4 separate regions of the Homo sapiens genome follow, and regions 1, 2 and 3 are each linked to region 4. The links come from fine-mapping of genetic effects on gene expression. A gene starts in region 4. Each other region holds a variant in brackets. All regions are shown on one strand. Distances are between the middles of the regions.

Region 1 (4,000 bases), 900 kb after region 4:
AAGCTGAACTTTTTACTTAAGATTCTACAATACCTTGTAACTATTTAACCAATAAGGATTCTGTTTCCAGGTCTCTAAATACTTGTGAATTGTTAAACCATATATTTATTTGGATTTTTGTGTCCCTATTCATAATTATAGTATCTGATAGGGTTAACAAATATTTACACTTTTAATAGCAACTATTAAAATATAGTAGGTTTTCAGACTTTCATACATGTGTACTCTCTCTCTCTCTCTCTCTCTCTGTCTCTCTCTCTCTCTCTATATATATATATATAATTGTGCCTTATATTTTGTTACAGAATCACTAGAGATATATTCTCAAGTAACTTGCTAGTAAGGAGAACAACCTATGAGAGGTGAATATTAAATTTTAGCAATATTTTCTTTACATTAGGGACTAAGTATTGATTTTAGAATTTCTTTCTCTAAAGATTAATAAAAATTAATAATATTTTGAAAGAGTGTCTCAAAATGATTTACAATCTAATATTTTTTTCTGAGCCACCTTCTCGTTGTTCAGTGTGAGTGATTGAGATGAATGATTGATATCCAGGTTTCTCTGTTTGCTAGGTAAAAATAAAGAGAAAATTATTTAAATGTATCAAATAGTAAGATTTCTCTAGGTGATTCTCCCTGGGTCTGATTCTAACATAAATTAAGTTCCTGCTAAATTACGTTGCAATGTGAGTAATAAATGTTTGTTGATGACTGAGTTCCGTTGTAACTATAAATTGCCTGTAACAATGAGCAGAGGGTAAGCTTGGAATTTAAGACATATTGTAGACAAGTGTCTTGAAGAAAGCAAAAAAAAAAAAAAAATTCCTACATTTTAGTGAATGCTGTGACATTTCTCTCTTTGAGAAAAGAGGATATGCTATTATCTTCCTGGGCAAGTTGAGGCAGAATGGGATGCTAATAAGCTCCAGAGGGGCTTACACTAAGGAGTTGGATTTCAGTTGGAAGAAGGGTTCTAGTGGCTAAAAGGCAATAAGAATATTCCTAAAATATTTTTGTAAGATTGTATATTGTCTTGTGAAAAGATGCTATTAATACATTATTAAAGAGAAAAGGAAAGAAAACTTATTTTTGGGAGATAGTATAGCTTAATGAAGAAAACCTAAAGTCAGAGAGATGCAGGTTCAAGTTTCAGCTCTGCCAATTACTAGTTACGTGGTCTTTGTCAACATTGCCGAGCCTGTTTCTCTGTGAAATGAGGATACTAATACCCAGTAGGGTTTGGGGGACATTCAGAAAAGAGAGGATTGGTTGCAAGGAATGAACATCCCGAAGGATTACAATGAGACAGGGGGAGGCTGCTCATAAAAAAAAAAAAAAAAAAAAAAAAAAGATAGAGGATAGAAGTTAGCCTTGGAGGCTATTAAAAGAGAAGCTTAATTATTCATTATGTGTATAAGGAAGGAGTCTTTATTCTAGGAATGAAAAATTCAAGAGACCTCAGGGTAGGCAGCTAAGGAAAATTTAAGGAAAGGAACAAAGAAAGCAACACAGAAGAAGAAAAAAACAAAGAAATGAATGAAGTATATAGTTTTCTCAGTATTGAATAAAGCCAAATACATTAATTATTAAATTACATAATATCTCCTTCTCATTATTGTTTAAACAGAAGATTTATTTATAGTTATTTGAATTGCTTTGAAGGGTTGGTTTTAGAATAAGTTCCAGGGGCAATTGGAGTTAAAAAATATTATTAAAATTATTAAACTATTCCAGAGCACAGAAAATAAACACAACTTCAAAAATATTGAATAAATGTATTAATGTGCCAAGTGATCAATATAATACAGAATGGAAAACAAAGGACTGTGTAACTTTGTCTGTTAACCTAGATGTAAACATTTAAATAAAAGTTTAACATATTAATCTAATAGTATAAAAATAAGAATTCAACGTGCTTGGTTGGATTTTGTTACAGACATATCGGGTGGTTGTAAACAGGAGATTGTATTTATGTAATTTTTATATCAATGTGTTAAAGGAGAAAAATATGTTTATATAAAAGAGTCTGGAAAGAAATAATGATTATTTCATAATGGAAAAAAAGCAATGTCACTGACACTATGATCATTCAACATTTTTTTAAAATAAATTAATTTTTTTTAGTTTTAGGGATTAGGCCTCACTCTCTTGCCCAGGCTGGAGTGAAGTGGCGCAGTGGCACAGTCATAGCTCACTCTAACCTTGAACTAACTCCTCAACTCAAATGATCCTCCTGCCTCAGCCT[C/G]CCAAGCAGCTGGGATTATAGACATGAGCCACCTTGCCCAGCTCAGTATCATTTTTCACATTCAAGCTAATGAAATAATTCAATAGAATTAAACAAATGCTTTTCAAAAATGAAGTTGGAACAATTAGTCATCCATAGACACAAAACAAAATAAACCAGCAGACAAACAAAACTTCATATTAAGCCTCATGCCATGTGTGAAGATATACAAAAAGTAACTCAAAATAGAGCAGGGAGGAATATGTGAAATAAAACTATAACATTTTTTAGGAAAAAGCCATAGGAGAAAGTTTCAAGACCAAGAAATAGGTGAAACATTGTTAGACTTGACAGCAAAAGCACGATTCATAAAAGGAAAAATTGATTACCTGGATCTCATAAATATTGATACCTTTTTCTCCACAAAACATTTTCTAAAGAGGGTGAAAAGACAACTTACAGACTGGAGGGAAATATTTGAAATTCACGTATCTGACAAAGCATTTGTATTTAGAATAGACGAAGAACTCATCAAATGCAGCATTAAACAAACACACCAACGAAATAATTCAGTTAGAAAGTGGGCGAATGACATGAACAGATATTTCACTGAAGACTATATGGGAATCATAAATAAGCACATTAAATGATGTTCAACCTCATTAGCTACTAGAGAAATGCAAATTAAACCACAAGGGGATATCACTACACGTATATAAGAATAGCCATTTTTTTTTAATGACATCAAATGCTGCCGAAGATGCAGAGAAACTGGATCATTTATACATTGCTGGTGAGAATGTAAAATGGTAAAACTACTGTAAAAAAGCATATGGAATTTTTAAATAAAACTGTAATGTGTTTACATTTGACCCAGCAACTGCATATTTGGGCATTTATCTTGGAGAAAAGAAAATGTATGTTTGTACAAAAATCTATAAAAAAATGTTTATAGTAACTTTATTTTTAATATCCCCAAACCAGAAATAACAATAACTCAAATGTTCTTCAATGAGTGAAGAGTTAAAGAATGGTCTCTCAATACCCTGGAATATTACTCAGCCATCAAAAGTGATAGATTATTTATACATTCAACAACTTGAATGGATCTCAAGGGAATTATTCTGAGTGATAAAAGCCAGTCCAAAAGCTTAGGTATGGTATGATTGTGATTATATAGCATTCTTAAAATTACAAAATTTTAAAAATGGAGAACAGAGTAGTGGTTGGTTGCCAAGGGATTGGGTGGGGGACTGTTAATGAAAGAGTGGCAGAAGAGATCCTAGTGATGGAACTGTTCTTGACTGTGGTGCTGGTCACCTGTGATGCAGTTGCGTAGAACTAAACACGCAAGAATGCACGTGAATAAATGAATACATGTAAAACTGCAGAAATCTGAGTAAGGTTGATGGAGTATATCAATGTCAGTTTCTTTTCGTGATATTATTATGCAGGATGTTACTTGTCATTGAGAGAAACTGAATGAAGAGTACACAGACTTTCTCTGTAATATTTCTTGCAACTTCATATGAATCTTCAATTACCTGGGAAGCAAATGCATACATAGTATAATTAGTTGCTTAAAATTTGGAAAAGAAAGAAAAAAGTAATATGTTTACAGATGCTATAATTTAATATGTAGAAAATAAAAACTCATAATTGAAATGTTTAAGAAAATGTGATATGGTGTAATCATTAATCTTATAGGTATAAAAATAATTTAGAATGGGAATGGGAAATATTCTGTTCACAATACCAAACTATATATACTTT
Region 2 (4,000 bases), 720 kb after region 4:
TTTTCTTTTTTACTGTGCCGACATAACCAATTCATTAAATGACAACTCTTAAAAAATAAAGAGCAAAATAAAGAAACACACATCCCTTGTTGGGCATCTAGTGGGTAAACATGACAACAGCAGGTAAATTTCTCACGTTCTCAAGTTGTTTTGGTGTTACAATTCAGCTACATGTATACAGAGAAAAGCATACACGGTAAAATAATCTGCATTGTTTTACTGTCTTAATTCCTGTATATATGACACAGAAGGGCGGTGGGGTGAAAGGAAGATGTGAGGTTTTAAATATAGCAAAAAAAAAAAAAAAAAGAGAGATTTGACAACACTGGACCTCAGTAGGCATGGGCAATTTGTTCAATATCTTCAGGTCTCCAGAGAGCAAGAATGACTCTCAGGATATTGCAACTCTGTCTGCTTCCACCAGAGATCATAATTGGGCTATGAATTTTTATAACAGGAAAGTCTTCCTGTCAAAGACAGAGACTGACAAAAACTTTAGTTAACTGATACTGAAAGAAACTCAAAACAGAATGAATAGTATACATGAGTATCACTTATATATATAGTGCCTTTACTTCTTTCTTCTTTTTTACTTTAAAAGTAAATTCCTGTTATAGTTTACTGGTTAGAGCTTCTAAAATGTAGCTTGTTTATGAGGATTGCTCAGCATACTGGTTTTCTGTCCAGGGACATGATGTGCATTTTGGGGAATTCAAAACCCGATTGAGGTGAGTAGAGGTCATTCATAAATCGAAACCAAATGATAGCAGAAGATATGAACTAAAGCTATTTCTTTATCTGCAAAGAGCTAATTGGGCATATTTCAGGCCAAGTCTCTGAAGACACAGCTCGTGAACTCTGTCTTCTTGATGCTGTGCTCATTATAGACACTCAACAGAGGACTGGCTAATGCTAGGGAAATCCCCATCAAGGTGGTCTTTACATGACACTGCAGATTTACCTCAGGAAGGGGAGCAAAGAGAAGGAAAATGCAGTGAGGGTTTCTAGCAACTAGCTGCTTGTGGAGTACTGTTTGCCTTGTCTAATTTATCTGAAACTGAAGAGTTTGTCTCTAAAGGGTATCCTACTTCAGAAAATCTCAAGGGACATTTGTCTTTCTGACATATCAGCTGTTAGCTAGACCTTATTTCTTACTTGGTTGTTTTTAGAGTAAATTTTGGTTCTTTGGTCCTTTGTCTGCTATTTGAGGTGGAGGATTAAATACTGCATAGATGACCTATGTATGTATAGAACAACCTAATTTTGCCACAGATACCAAAACACTATAACGATAATCTTCAATTAATCCAATTATTATCTAAATTTCATAACCCGTCCTCAATTATCTACCTTAATATTTCTAGGTAAAGAGAGATGTACTGCATTGACTTCCTGTTTTTAAAGGGTAAAACAGCAAGAGAAAGAAAGACATTGTAGATATTCACAATGTTGTATGTGAGGAAGTTTTTGAATGGCTTCAGAAACCCAAATGAATATATTGAGAAAGCAGCATTGTGAGTTCTGTCTACATGTGAACCCAAAACTAGGATTTGAGGTAATCCATTTTCAGAAAGAAGTGATGGAGTTTGAATTCTAGGAAATCTTCCTGAATAAAATGGCCATGTGTTGTAAAGTTTAGATATTTATAACCCAAAATAGAAGGAATTTTGCTAGGTGATCTCTCCAGTTCCTTTTCAGTTATGAGAGTCTGATTTCTTCCCATGAAAAGTGTAGAAAAACTTCCTTTACTGTTATATGAATGTTATAAAATGTATGCTTGTCCATGAATTAGCTGATCAAAGATAATACATGAAAAAGTATTCAAAATACTCTGTGAATCTTTTTTTTAAAAAACTCTCTTTAAATAGATTTTTGTATTCAGAAGTTATGCTTTGTAAATACATTTTAAATTTCAGATTTAAACATTATCAAGACAAAATTGTGACTATGTGCATGTAAAACTAGAGAGCACTGGAAAATATGGTGGATGGTAAGGGCCTTTTGCAAGGTAATTAACTTATCTATTGAGTTTTTTTTTTTTAATTTCTAAGTACTTAATTGACTCTCCCACTAAAATTTAAACATATACAAATAATTTTTCATTCAGAAGATAGGC[A/G]TTTGATTTATAACATCAACATATCATCACAAAAACTTAGAGAATGAGAATATCTTAATGGGCACCTGGTCTAAACATTTTAATTTTACCAGGTAAAAAGGTGGAAGTGGCATGGCATGGTGGCTCATGTCTGTAATCCCAGCACTCTGGGAGGCCGGGGTGGGCGGATAACTAGGTCAGGAGATCGAGACAATGCCGGCTAACACGGTGAAACCCCGTCTCCACTAAAAATGCAAAAAATTAGCTTGGTGTGGTGGCGCGCGCCTGTAGTCCCAGCTACTTGGGAGGCTGAGGCAGGAGAATGTTTCTTTAAAAATAACATCATTAGAAACCATACAAAACAGAACTGCAAATACTCCCTTCTAAGGTGTAAGGTATTCCAACATTTCTTGTTTGGACGTTAGAATTTTTTCTTCAGTAAGAAATTAAGTTGAAAATGAAGTAGAACATCTTACACTGTAATTCAAGTGCAATACATTAAAAAAATAAAAACAGTGTTTAAATTGGGAAAATCCGTTTACATGTGATTAAGTTTTAATCAGTGCCCTTAACCCAGATCTCAACAGCTAAAAATGTTCTTAGCTTGACAAAATAACAACCCATCCCCAAGGACAAATACTTAAATCAAAGAAGCATTTTATAAATAAAAAAATTCACGCACACATACACACACAGACCCCCACAATACATGAAACATATAATAATGTTTGTCTTTATTTGTAATGAAGTGGATTTTATACTGAATTCAGAACACAGATGCAAATTCAACAGTTGAACTCAATCAAATAAGTAATCTTATATAAAAGGATATCTCCCTCCAGCATGTACTTATCCTGTGTGACAGATATCTCTGTAATAAAGTAAATTCCTTCAACTCAAGCAGATTGTCCGAAATGGAAACACAATGAAAGGATGAATATACTCAAATAATCAACAGAAGAGCAAAATATAAAAATGCGAACATTTTCTGAATAATGCAGATGCCCTCCCTCCAAAAGAATTACATGTGAGGGAATATCTATATTGTCATAATTACTGGATAAGCTGCCCAATAGCTATTACACTAATGTTTCATTAAAAATATATATTTGCTTTATGCTTTTGCAACTTGCAAAGTTATTCCTAGCAAAAAGTTATTTCTCCTGAAACAGAATAAATAGGTCTTTCACAATATGCACTGGAATACATATTTTTGAAAAACAAGATCTCCACTCACCTCTAATTCTATCTTTCTGCTGGTGATTACTGATATATTTATTTTAAAATACATACTTTATAGGAAGTATCGTTACAATTAATATTTAGGACAACATTATAATTCGTGTTTTAGAAACTACTAAGGCAAGAGGACAGCTCCTACCATTCTACAAAAGTCTTTCAGTTAAGAAGTGACTAATTAATGGACTGAGTGGCTCAGAGCAGGGAGCCAGTCCTTAGCCAATAAAGCCCAACTCACTGCCACCCCACTGCCCCATATTCTCTGTCCTCTCTGCTGGAACTGTCTTGTGCTGAATACATGAACACCTAAATATTCAACTCACTCCTGCCATTTCTCCGGTAAGCAATCTTCCACAACCTGTGCCTGAGACTTGGAGGCTGTTTGTGGTCCACAGGCTTTAGGCGCCCTAGGGAAAGCCACGTGCACTAGTGCATCTGGATGAACTGTGGACTTTGTCTATCCGCGGTAATTCAACTTCCTAAGAGCTACATTGACTCATTGATTTGTATCCAGGCTCCGGGCTCCCAATTCCCACACAACGTAAGCTCCCTGCAGCCAGGGGATTTGGTAGGTTTGCCGTGTTGTTTAGTTTCTCTCCCCTGCGACCCTCTCTCTGAGCCTCACAGTGTGTTTGGCACGTGGTAGGTGCTCGGTAAACCTACTTT
Region 3 (4,000 bases), 340 kb after region 4:
TCTAGCAGGCTGAGGAAGCCTAGAAAGTTTGCATTCTCTAAGCAATGTTAGCATGAACTCTTTGTACTCATTACTTCTTAGTATATGGCAGCAGCTTCAGAAAGGTGAGTCAGGAAACATTCACATTCCCAACAATTAGAATGTCACCACTCTTTGTTCATTCTTTTGAATTATAGTCAAGAAGTGTCTTATTAATTCAACACAATGCATAAATATATCTTGAGTATCTCCAATGAATCATGTACTGTTCAAGCCTCTGGCAATACAAACAATAAAAGACACTCCTACGTCTCAAGGAACTATCACTTTGGGTGACAGAGAGAGACATCTAAACAAATATACTTACAATGTTGGTAATACATTCATGGAGGCACATGGGAAGGACCCAGAAGCAGAGGAGGTTCACTGTGCTTGGATGCAGATAGCAGGAGTTAATATGGAAGAAGTCAAGAATGTCTTCCCAGAGATGGTGAAAAACAAAATGAGTTTTGAAGATATGATGGGAAAATACACTGATTTTTAGATATAGCTCTAGATAAAAATAAAGAGACAAAGTGTTACAGGTAAAATTAGCTGCAGATACATCTTAGTTGTCATGTAGTTGATCCAATTGAGTGAACAATTGAACAACAATTAGAACACAAACAAACCTCCATGATCTGAGGCCTGCTGAACTCTCTTTTCTGACAGCCCTTCCCACTGCACATTGGATATAGAATGATGCCATGGCATTCCATGCATCCATGCCTTTGAACACACTATCTCCTCTGCTTGAATGACCTTTGCTGCTTATGTAGAAGGAAAAAACAGTTACATTCATACCTAAGGTTCCAGAGCTTCCAAGACCTTGTCAAAGAAAATAGACTCCTAGCTTTTCTCTACTGAATGCAATCTCCGTTATCAGGCCATAAGCTCCTTAGGAGCTAGCGCTAGATCTGAGTGAACACTGCCAGTAGTGTGATGAATTTGGCTTTTATAGGCTCAAAAGAAATATTGTTAAATGTACAACATTTTTTGAGCCATTTGTTAAATTTTTGGCAGCTTGAAGTCATCTATGGTGGGAGCTGACAAACACTACATTAAAAAAAGATCAAAAAATTTGTTGGATAAATTACATTAGAGTAATTTTTAAAGTCACATATTCAAGTTGTAGTGATTTAAATTAAATAAAGTTAGTGCAGATTATAAGAATTGATGAGTATTGAATTGATGAGTATTGGAAAAGGGGATGAGTGGAGACACCTCTCTGAGCAGTGTGAGTTTTGAAAAGGAAATCAAATTATTAGAGAAGATAATGGTAGCCAAAAAGACTTTCTAAGGATCAGTGTTCTCATAATTAAAAAAAAGAAGGCATAAGAATTTCTGCCAAACATACTTTTTCAAAAATAAAAAAGATATATGAAAATGTTTTATAAACCATGTAGTACATAACTATATAATATATACATTATATAGTGTATAGTTGCAATTATTGGACTAAAAGCAGTTAATACAGGCTTTACATATGTTAAGACTTTTATTCAGAAGTAAATGAAATGTACTCTTTGAGAATGGGTATATTTTATTGTTTTTTATAACCATATTCTCATTTATTTTTGAAACTCTTCTTAGAATAAGAAAAGAGTACAGGAAGACCAACAAGTCACATTCAAACCTTATAATTCTGCAGCCTAGGAAACACTGTCTTGTGCTGGAAATGGCTTCCTTTCTTCCTGGTCCAACTTTTTTGAACTGCCCATGGATTTTGCACTGTACAAATCA[C/T]AATCCTTAGAAATATATTACCCACATACATTTCTGAAGAGGGTTTTCAGGGCCCTTTTTTGAGTATTACTTTTGGATATATTATTCCTACTAAATTATATTTCTTCCAGAAAAAGTTTTGAAAAGTTGGCAACCTCCCTATTTCAGTCCTTCATATTATGCCACTTGTTACAGTCATAAACAGCAAGGAAAGAAGGAAGTTTGACCAAATGCAAATGGCTGGGAAGAAGTAGCCCTTTCAGAGTTGCTGAATGTCTCGTGTGAAAATGCTTTGTGGCTGAGCTTAAGAAATAAATATAAAGTAGTATTTAAATCCTCATCTCAAAGCTTCTATCAGTAATAGATATGAAGCCCAAAGCAGTAAATGTTTAAATGACTACTTTACATCTCTTAAATGCAGTGTTATGTCCTGGCTATATGGTAATGACATCATTAAACAGAAATCCTTTGAGCCGCAGAACCAAGATGCTTTATAGTAAGTTCTATGAAGTTACATAGTCAAAGAGTTCACTGTTCTTTAAGTTAGACTCATATCCGCAATTTTATGACAGGTTCTGCTTAAATAATTGTAGGGTAGTGGTAAAGCATGGACTTTAGGGTCAATAATCTGAAGATCTAAATTTGAATTTGTCGTGTCTTTCATTAGTTAGCTGACATTCTGGATTTCAGTTTCAAGACCTTTAAAATGGGAATAATAGCAATCATCTTAAACATGTCCAAGAAAGAGTGAGACAATTAAATAAATACATTACTAAGAAGGGCTATAAATGAAATGTTATTATAGGTATTAGCATCATCATTATCATTCATTACCCTAATCATTATCATCTTTAAGCAATATTAAGGGATGACACTTACAGATAGACTGAGTCTTACTCTCTGGGTCAAGAAGGTTATTTCAAAATGCAAGTTACTAAAGTATATTATATATGCAAAACATTTGGCTTATTAAAACTCAAGTGTCATGGCTCATAGCCGAGACCTGCACTTTCATATAAATGTGATTTGATCATATGTATCATATTCAAAAATATCTATTAGTCCTATAACGTTAGCCACAGTGGCTAATTTCTATAATAGCTTCACATTTTAGTTACTTACCAACATAAATATTTATTTCTTATTTATGTTACAGTAAACTTAAGTTTGCTTGGGTGGAAGGTTGTCTCTTTTTCACGCAATTATTTAGAGTTCCAGGCTTCATCCATCTAATGGCTTTGTTAAAGTCTAGAGTCTTGGAGTGTACCACTGACTCCGTTAATCTGACCGGCAGATAAAATAGTAAAGAAATCATGGAAGCTTGCAAGGAAAGTACATGAACCAGGCCTGGAAGTGGTATATACCACTTCCATGAAAAATCCTACTGGTTTAAAATCGGTCGCATGACTGCACCTAATTGCAAAGGAAGCCAGAAAATGTAGTCCACCTATATGCTCTGATGGAAGATAAAATGGATTTGATGAGTCTTGCCAGCCTCTGCCATAGGGTTCTAGCATATTACAATAAATTATGAATTTAATTGACCGAAAGACAAAGCGCAACTTAATGGTGTCACAATCCCATGTTAGTTATAAAAAATAATGTATAATCTATTCTCCCCTTTATGGTTACTGTAAAAATTAGTAGCACCCTAGTTAATTCAATGCCAGAAAGCAGCTGTCTTGAGAGTTCATGGTCTTAAGCTTTACATGCCTGGGCTCTATTTTTGGTCCAGTGGAGTTGGTACCTCTGGGGCCTGAGTAATCCCGTGTTGCAGCAGACAGAGTTCCTCTGCTGCAGTCAGGCCTTCTCATCAGTGTATACCCCTGTGAAACTTCCAGACTACACAGAATAACCTGGCTTTCTCTCCTGGATGTGGATGTGGACACTAAATGCTCTTCATCTGAACGAAGAGGTTTGTGTTTCATAAAGATTAAGCTAACTATGAGGAAAAAACAGGCAACCAGACTCTTCTGAGATTTTCTGTCTGCATATAGACATCAATATAAACATAGGTATATGTTTGTTCAGTATGGCTTTTATTATTAACAGAACAAGAGCCAGCTCCCTGAGAGCTACCCAAGGTCCTAAACCACCTCTGATCAAAGTTATCTCATATCTAGGGTAGCAGAGGACTCCTGATTTTTCAGAGGACCTATTCCCGTCATATCTTATAAAATGTAATGATTGACTTCTTACATACAAGCTGCTAATTTTGATATGGTCTAAGCTGATATCAGTTTACGCTGAGGACTTTTTC
Region 4 (7,917 bases):
CTGGAGAACTGAGGGTGAGGAAAGCTCCAAAAATCCCTTATGAGGAAATCATGGCTATCTATTTTAGTGTTTTATAAATTTAGGATTTGGATCACATTTTCAGCTGGAAGTTTTTGCAGAAGAGAATTATTCCAGAAAACATAAATGTCACCATTAGAACTGTGTAAGACAATGACAGTAGCAGAGATAATGTTTTGCTTTTTTATGGATGTGGAACTCCACTTGGGGCAACTGATAATTTTTGAGATGTTTGTGTTTGGTTCTGGTTAGCAAGCAGCAGGGAGTGGAACCTGTCAGGAATGTCAGTCAACTGGATCTGTGACAGTCGGTCACCCTGAGGTTGGTCTGCATCATACAGACTATATATCCAGTGTACTTGGAAGCAGGCAGCCTCCAGGATAAGAGCAAATTATAGTCAAGGATCAGCTAAGAGGACAGTTTGAAAAGTTTGTGGTGATGATCAAGAGATGAATAGTGGAAAAATCAGGAAGCCAAATCCAGTAACGGGAGATGCAAAGAGGGGCAATTCACACTTGTCAATGAGTGTAGGTCAGTTCTTATTGGATACGGGAATGGCAGCCAGCTCTAAAGCTGGACTGGCATAGGCTAGTCAATAACTTCACTTATTTGTTGATTCTAATCCCTGCTCTCACGTTCTATGTGGTTTTAGGCAATACCTCATGAGAGAAAGAGTACAATAAACTACTTCATTAATTAATTTGGACGATAAATTGAAAATGTAGAGCGAGCACTTCCCACTTTCTATGTGTTTGTGTGTTTGGTTGGAATATTATGGGACATAAGTCTGGAGAGGTGGCTTTCAGACAGTGAATCACACAGTAGTTGATCATCTAATGTAAAAGCGAGTTTAGAAATTTGTGTTCTTTTTCTCATTAAACTTACATTTTATTGCTACTTGAGAATTCATAATACTATATTTGCTTTTTTTTCAGAAAGTCCTTCAAGTGATTACTACTGAAAGAATAAGAAAATGTGAGTTTTACTTTTTGTTGTATTAGTACAGTTACAACGGTTAGTAGGATAAAATAACTTTTTTTATTCGTATAGCAGAATAGTTAAAAGTATGCACTCTTATGTAGTCAGGCCTGCCTGCTCTGCCTCCTACCAATGGCTCTGGCCTTTGCAGAGCTATATGTGCCCAGCAGGGGAAATCCTCATAGCTCACATTCAACTCTGGTATTTCCCCATATGCAAGTGTTATTATGGGTCTGTATCCTACTCCTGAATAACTCAGGAAAAGATATTAGGAAAGCCCTGTTGATAACAAGACACATAGGATAAAGAAGTTCTGTCTTATATTTACCTGAAGTAGCTTTGAAATTAACTTGTCACAGTCTATGGACCATTAAATATAAGCATGTTGGCATCTTAAGGTTGGATGGCAGAGATAGGCATATATCTCTGCATATGAAAAATAAGCAGCAGTAGGGTTATGGCTATCATTAGGGTTACTCAGAATGCTATTCTGATTTTACTGCTACTTGGGTGCATGCTGCACGTCACTTTCTTGTTACCTAAACTTGAATGTAGCCATGAGAGTGGCTTTAGCCAATGGAATGTAAGTAGAAGTGTTTTGTGTCTTTGCTGGGCATAAGCCTTTAAATAAGAGCATGATTTTTCATGTTTCTTTCCTTCTGCCTTGTTGATTGTGAAAGCTTGTATTAAGATGGGGCCTTTATCAGCCTGGATCCCTAAGATTGAAAGAGCCTCACGTGCTCTTCCTCCCGTGCCAACCAGGTATTGGCATGCTGTATAATGAGAAAGAAACCTTCATTATTTTAAACCACTGGGATTTAGAGATTACTTATAAATGTATTTATTTATTTATTTTTATTTTTTGAGATAGAGTCTCCCTCTGTCATTCAGGCTGTAGTGCAGTGGCACAATCTCAGCTCACTGCAACCTCCGCCTCTGGGGTTCAAGCAACTCTCATGCCTCAGCCTCCCGAATAGCTGGGATTACAGGTGTGCACCACCATGCCAGGCTAATTTTTGTATTTTTTTGTAGAGATGGGGTTTGCCATGTTGCCCAGGCTGTTCTCAGACTCCTGGCCTCAAGTGACCCACTTGTCTCAGCCTCTCAAAATGCTGGGATTATCAGTGTAGGCCACTGCACCCGACCTTGGAGGTTATTTGTTATTGAACCATAACTTTGCCTATCCTGACTCTGCAAGTGGTTTCCAGAAAAGATCAATTCTTGAAGACCATGAAGCCACAATTAGACCAGAGACTTCCACTTGAGTGAATCCCGGGAACAATCTGAAGCATAGAAGGTGTTACAAGCAGGGGTCAATCATGAAGAAAGATGTGGCAGGCAGGAGTTAGGTGAGGGTCAAGTCAAAAAAGCCAACCATTAGAAACCATATTCCAGTTCTAGTAGGAAATGCAAATGACTCAGTGGATGGGTCATGAGAAGACCAGAACACAGATGATAGGTGTTAAGATGAGGAGATGATCCCTCAATGGTCATGGAGGGATTTGAATTTTCTACAGTAGATTTCAAAAAAATCAGGGAAACAGCCCAATATCCTTTCAGATACCATTCTTATTGACTAGAGGCCTGGGCTTGCCTAACTTTGCAATCTGTAGGTCATCACTGTGACCAGCTAGTTAGGGCTTGGGCAGATGGGACTTGAAACAAAGAGACGGAAATTGGTAGTAGAATCCATCTGACACTTTGACTTTTTTTTTTTTCTAATGGGATATTTTCATTAACCCCATCCTAAATTTCTATTTCCCGGATCAAATGATAGCTGGTCAAGGAACATCGTGGGTTATATTTTCTGAAAGCGTTAGCCATCTTAATTTTTTTTGTGGGAAAGGTGGAAGGGACTCACTCCTAACTTTTCCCAAACTGTTTGACAACAACATATTTTTATACGGTTATCATAAGTGTTGATTACATTTGAAATTGGTCCTTTGGACTAAATTGTCTAAATTTTCTAGTTCAGTATGATTTACTGTATAGTGTTTCTTCAGCAGATCTAAACCTTAAAAAAAACTACTTCCATGTGACAAACCGTGATGCAATTTTGCAGCTGTTTTCATTCTAAACATATTGAGCCCAATATATCCCAATTAGAAGAAATGTATATGAATTATCCTTATTAAGCGGTATTTGTAATTCTCTAGCACTTGTCTAAATTTCTTTGGTCTCTATTTTCTTCTAGTTGTACATTCCAATTGGCTACATTAAGATACAGCAGATTTTACAAAATAATGAACAATTTATACATGTTTTAAATAGAAATGTTTAAAAATTACTATGGTTTTCATTTCCTTGATTCATGAAATGATAATATAACAGAAAGGGAAAACAAAATCCAAAATGAGATTTGGGTCATATGTTTTGCTCTGAACACTTGATTTTTCTTTGGAACTTGGAGTTTGATATAATGTGGAGCCTGGAAAGGGAGCATATGGTGTATACGAGGCACTCTTTTCTCTTACTGTGATTTTTCTCTATTTTCAAAATGCAACTTTGGGAAAAGATTTTAGGTGGATTCTGGCCACCTACCTATAAATGGTAGTGTCAATATCTTTCTTGGATCCTGCTGCCATCCAGGTGGGGGTAGAACCTTTTTGAAAAATTGTAGAAAAGGGGTGAAGTCTCATGTGATTATAGTTGTAGAAATCCAGCAACTCATACCCTCTTTGTGGTAGGCATATAAATGCTGTCTCTATCAATGTGCCTGGAGAGGGTTCCTTGAAGTACTAGTGGCTCCTTCCATCCTGTACAGTTCTTTGATGGGGATGGGATACTCTGAACTCTTGGACTGCTCTCCCTCCCTGGGCTCCCCAGATAATTTAGTTTGGAAGTTTCTTAGATACCTAGTACAAAGTGCTATCTAAGAAAGGAATTAAGCCAATTCTACTGGTATAGAACATTCATTTATTCAGAGATTATCAAACTGTAAACCACCTGATGAAATGTTCATAGGTTTTTTCATTGAGTATTTTGTATGTTTTTTACTTCATTACTTTCTTCTCTTCTCTTTATTGTTTCCCCCCTATAATTTATTTGAGTTTATTTTGCCATTCTTTTTCCAACTCTTTGATATGAATAATTAGCTTATTAATTATTAATTTTATGCTTTTCTGCATTTCTGGTATAGGTACTTAATTATATACATTTTCCTTTAAATATTGATTTAGCTGCATACTGCAAATTTTCTGTGTTGTTTTCATTATTGTTGAATACAAAATGTTTAAACATTTTTAATATACTCTTTTTGTGATTTATGAATTATTCAAAGCAATGCTATTCAAGCAAAATACAAGATAAGCCACAAATTCCAGTCACATTTGTGATTTAGAATTGTAAACTTCAAATCATGAGATTTGTTGGCCCTATGGCTGCCTCTGGTTGTGCTCAATATGATGCCTGGATATTGCTACACCAGATTCTTGCACACAGCCTTTTGCCTGGTTCTTATTGGCTCCATCTCTTTTCCCATGATTCTCCTGATTTCTCCAATACTCTTGCCATTAACTTTTGTGGCTGCAAACAGTCTGATCTTACTTCTGTCACATCCTTACCTCCACTTTGCTACTCAGAACTATAACCTTCTGAAACTTAGCCATCCTCAAACATGTGCAGACTACTTTGTCAGAATGTTTAGATCCCTTTTCTGTTTTACAAGAGAAAATATGTGTTTATAATTATGTATAAATTAATTTCACCAAACATTAATTTATTTCATTTCACATTAAAGTTTATCTGTAATATTTTAGGCTGTTCATAAAAGCCTCCTGAATGTAGTTCGTTAGTTCAATCTTATAAACCTAGCATTTCATTAGTAGGATACATTTCTGATGAATAAATACTGTTGGTTTTCAACATCAAACACTTTGCAACAAAAGTTGGAAAAGAGTGTCCTGCATTTACTCAAGACTACTGGATCTTATTTCCAACCAGGATATATTTATTCTAGTTAGTGTTGATGTGACAATGGGGACTGGTGACTCGGAAAACTTAATTTACAAATATTTATAATTTATTTTGCCTAAAATGACATTAGGGACAGAGAGGTGACCATTTGGGGAGTTAGACTGGCATGAGCTAACTACCAGTTTGTCCCAGGCATTCAAAAAATACGGCTTCAAGGAAAGCAATGGTCAAAAATAAAGGTTGAAAATAAAAACATTGTCTAGCTTTGGTGCGATATCCAAAAACTACAATAACTATTGTATTTGAAAACTTTTTAAATATACCTTAAGCTTTCTGCCACCTTACAGAAAGGACAGTCTCTTGGCTGGCTGTTATGGCTAAATTTTAAAAATATCCATAGGGAATATCAGTCCTTCAACCTATAGATATAAAACCCCCAAATTCTGAAACTGCCAACAGTCTTTTTTTTTTTTTTTCCACAGCATTTACTTGTGTTTTGATTGCAAGAAGTACCCAGGAAGGAATAAAATTTAGTAACAGAATGAGGATGTTATGATTTTTTTTTAAACTGGGTTAGGGGTGGGGAGAGGGAGAGAGAGAGAGAGAAATATTTTGCACTGGAAAAACTATAATCTGGAGAGACAGAGGAGTTGAGAGTGCCCCTTTAAACTGCAGGACTGCAATTGATCTCTGTATGTTTTCTGGTTTTCGTCCCTTTGAAAGGGGAATGAGAGCCAGGATCATTGGCTGTACTGTGGAGCTGTCACATCTCCATACTGAAAAGGTACACTGCAAGTGAATTTAAACCGTTTTTGGCTTTCTATTGCATATTGCCAAGAGCTTTGAGACTGATGAACCAAGTAAATGCTCTATTTAGGGCTAAGTGAGATACAGATTCCTCCAATCTGATAGCGTTTCAGCCTCCGGAGTGAGGAAGCAGCAGAAACAGAAGCAGCAGAAGCAACAGCAGTAGCAGCGGCAGCAGCAACAGCAGCAGCCCCTACTGAAGTCCAATAGAGGAGACTTGATCTCTAGTTCATTCTGGAACTCCGCCTGGGATTGTGCACTGTCCAGGGTCCTGAAACATGAACCAAACTGCCAGCGTGTCCCATCACATCAAGTGTCAACCCTCAAAAACAATCAAGGTAGGATCTGGTTTTTCCCTCTGCTTCTGCACATGTGTCTTCATTCATCTACCTAACACATGGGCATTGATATATCGGGGTACTGACAGTGGACATACCTACTTGATTTGAGTTTGAATTGAAGGTTGAGTCACAATAAAGCATTTGGCTCTGCATGTGTGTGTAGACTGGAAAGAATAGTTTCCACTGAACACTTCTTTCATCTTCATGACTTTTTTTTTTTTTACTGAGAATCTATCAGAGGTATATTTCCAGAAGAAAGTTTTGTGAGTGTCTAGAAGAGTTTCCAGTCCATGCCAATTTTCTTGATAGAACTGGGGAAGAATTTGCAAACTGCTAGAAATAAATAGCATCAAATTGACTACAAATCTGATAACAGGATTTCATTGTCATATGAATTTTGGATCTCTTATCCTTTTTTAAAAAAAGCTCATCCTTCATTGTGAGCATTGAACTGGTGGTTATACTAAAGTGATTATAGTGAGAGAGGATGAAAGACTAGAGAGAGAGTATAAAATCACATGTCTTTATTTATATCACCATGTAACTCAAAACCAGTGAGATGATTGGAGACACTCTTCAATGCAGGTGTTGTTTAAAATTTGAGGCTTTTCTGACAGCACATGGTTAAAGGTAAAGAACAAACTCACAATTTCACTCTTCTGTTTTAGTTTCAAGTCATGCTTATACCATTCTCTTTGTTTTTATTCGGGATGCTCTTATTTCCAAGAAGGCTTATAAACGACCAGACTTCCAATCAAAGTTTACTATATTTTGCCATTTACTTGAATTGTATTATTATCTATGTGGATATTTTGCATCTTGAGGGAAAGTGATGGATTCGTCTGAAACTCTTTTATGAAAAAAAAAAAAAAACTAAAACAAAAAACGTGATATCCTGACAGGGCATCTTTAGTTACTGCAATCTCTCATTAACATACAAGTGCATACCTTTTGCTACTATTCCTGATAAGCCTGACTTTTTATGATTTATATTATGTTTTGGTTTATGTCTCAGGCCTTTAATAATATTGCATAGACTGTAATTACAAAAGGAATATAATTTTCAACAATGTCTCTTCTTCATGAATTTACCTACCGTTTGCCAGAGTGTTTCAGTGATAGATAAACCATAAACTAAACATGTTCCTCTATTTATTAGCAGTGACTTTTAAAAGCAATGGGGTTTCCAGGGTATATTAAATGATGCATAATTAGATTCCCATCATACATAAACATAGGGAGTTAACTGAAATCATGCAGAACTCATATTCAGATAATTTACACCACCTCTAATAACAGATATGAGAATCTTTTTCAGCATTAGATTTTCTGTGCTGTATCTAAGTTTAGAAATAAAAAATGTTGAGCTTTTGGTATAGTTTTCCTCTGTGTATCAGTTTCCCACATACATCAATTATCTAAGCATATCACTGAACAAAGCCAAAATAGTAAATACATGACACTCTACATTGGGATATATAAGCTCTAGTGGGAAATATGTATTGAAGCCTAAAGTGGGATAGAGTTACAAACTGGCTGCCTACTGCTAAGTATGTCTAGAATGCTATAACAAAACCAGTGGCTTTCTGTTTAAGAGTCTGAGGTCACAGGAATCAAGCATTTATTTTCCCTTTTCTTTATTGAGTAAGCATAAATGACTACTACTTTCAGAGACTTCAAATCACTTCCTTTATTAGTGCTCTGGCATTGGCTGCCCACAAACAAACTGTGGAACAGAAAAAAAAATGTTTCTAGTGTAGAGGTTTTACATCATCTTGCTGATCTTGCAGATGCTGTTTTTTCCTTCTAACTGCAGCCATTGAGTTGAAATGAAAAGTATCATAAAAATTGGACAACC

Which allele goes with the higher level. Alleles are on the strand shown, and positions count from the first base shown. SD is a standard deviation of normalised expression in the study named. Not every link is listed here.
For the expression in testis of the gene that starts at base 5,859 in region 4, G is the low allele of the variant in region 2 and A is the other (moderate effect, 0.44 SD a copy in GTEx).
For the expression in esophagus muscle of the gene that starts at base 5,859 in region 4, allele C in region 3 goes with a higher level than allele T (small effect, 0.28 SD a copy in GTEx).

What was found. PIP is the estimated chance that this variant, and not a neighbour inherited with it, causes the effect.
Region 1: its variant is the best candidate, but not a certain one, in a credible set for the expression of DPP10 in nasal epithelium (TOPMed, PIP 0.79).
Region 2: its variant is the best candidate, but not a certain one, in a credible set for the expression of DPP10 in testis (GTEx, PIP 0.52).
Region 3: its variant is the best candidate, but not a certain one, in a credible set for the expression of DPP10 in esophagus muscle (GTEx, PIP 0.60).

What each region holds. Positions count from the first base shown.
Region 1 is chr2:115,336,335-115,340,334 of GRCh38, forward strand. All of the region lies in intron 2 of DPP10 (dipeptidyl peptidase like 10), which reads left to right. Among named protein-coding and RNA genes, the nearest start is that of DPP10-AS1, 180 kb to the left of the region's middle. The variant C/G (reference allele first, on the strand shown) is at 2,249.
Region 2 is chr2:115,156,953-115,160,952 of GRCh38, forward strand. The region is part of intron 1 of DPP10 (dipeptidyl peptidase like 10); the gene reads left to right. All of the region lies in intron 1 of DPP10-AS1 (DPP10 antisense RNA 1), which reads right to left. Among named protein-coding and RNA genes, the nearest start is that of DPP10-AS1, 2.4 kb to the right of the region's middle. The variant A/G (reference allele first, on the strand shown) is at 2,117.
Region 3 is chr2:114,775,592-114,779,591 of GRCh38, forward strand. All of the region lies in intron 1 of DPP10 (dipeptidyl peptidase like 10), which reads left to right. Among named protein-coding and RNA genes, the nearest start is that of DPP10-AS3, 56 kb to the right of the region's middle. The variant C/T (reference allele first, on the strand shown) is at 1,762.
Region 4 is chr2:114,436,783-114,444,699 of GRCh38, forward strand. It overlaps DPP10 (dipeptidyl peptidase like 10), which reads left to right and starts at 5,859. Exons shown (of 26, transcript NM_020868.6): 1 at 5,859-6,056. The coding sequence starts at 5,997.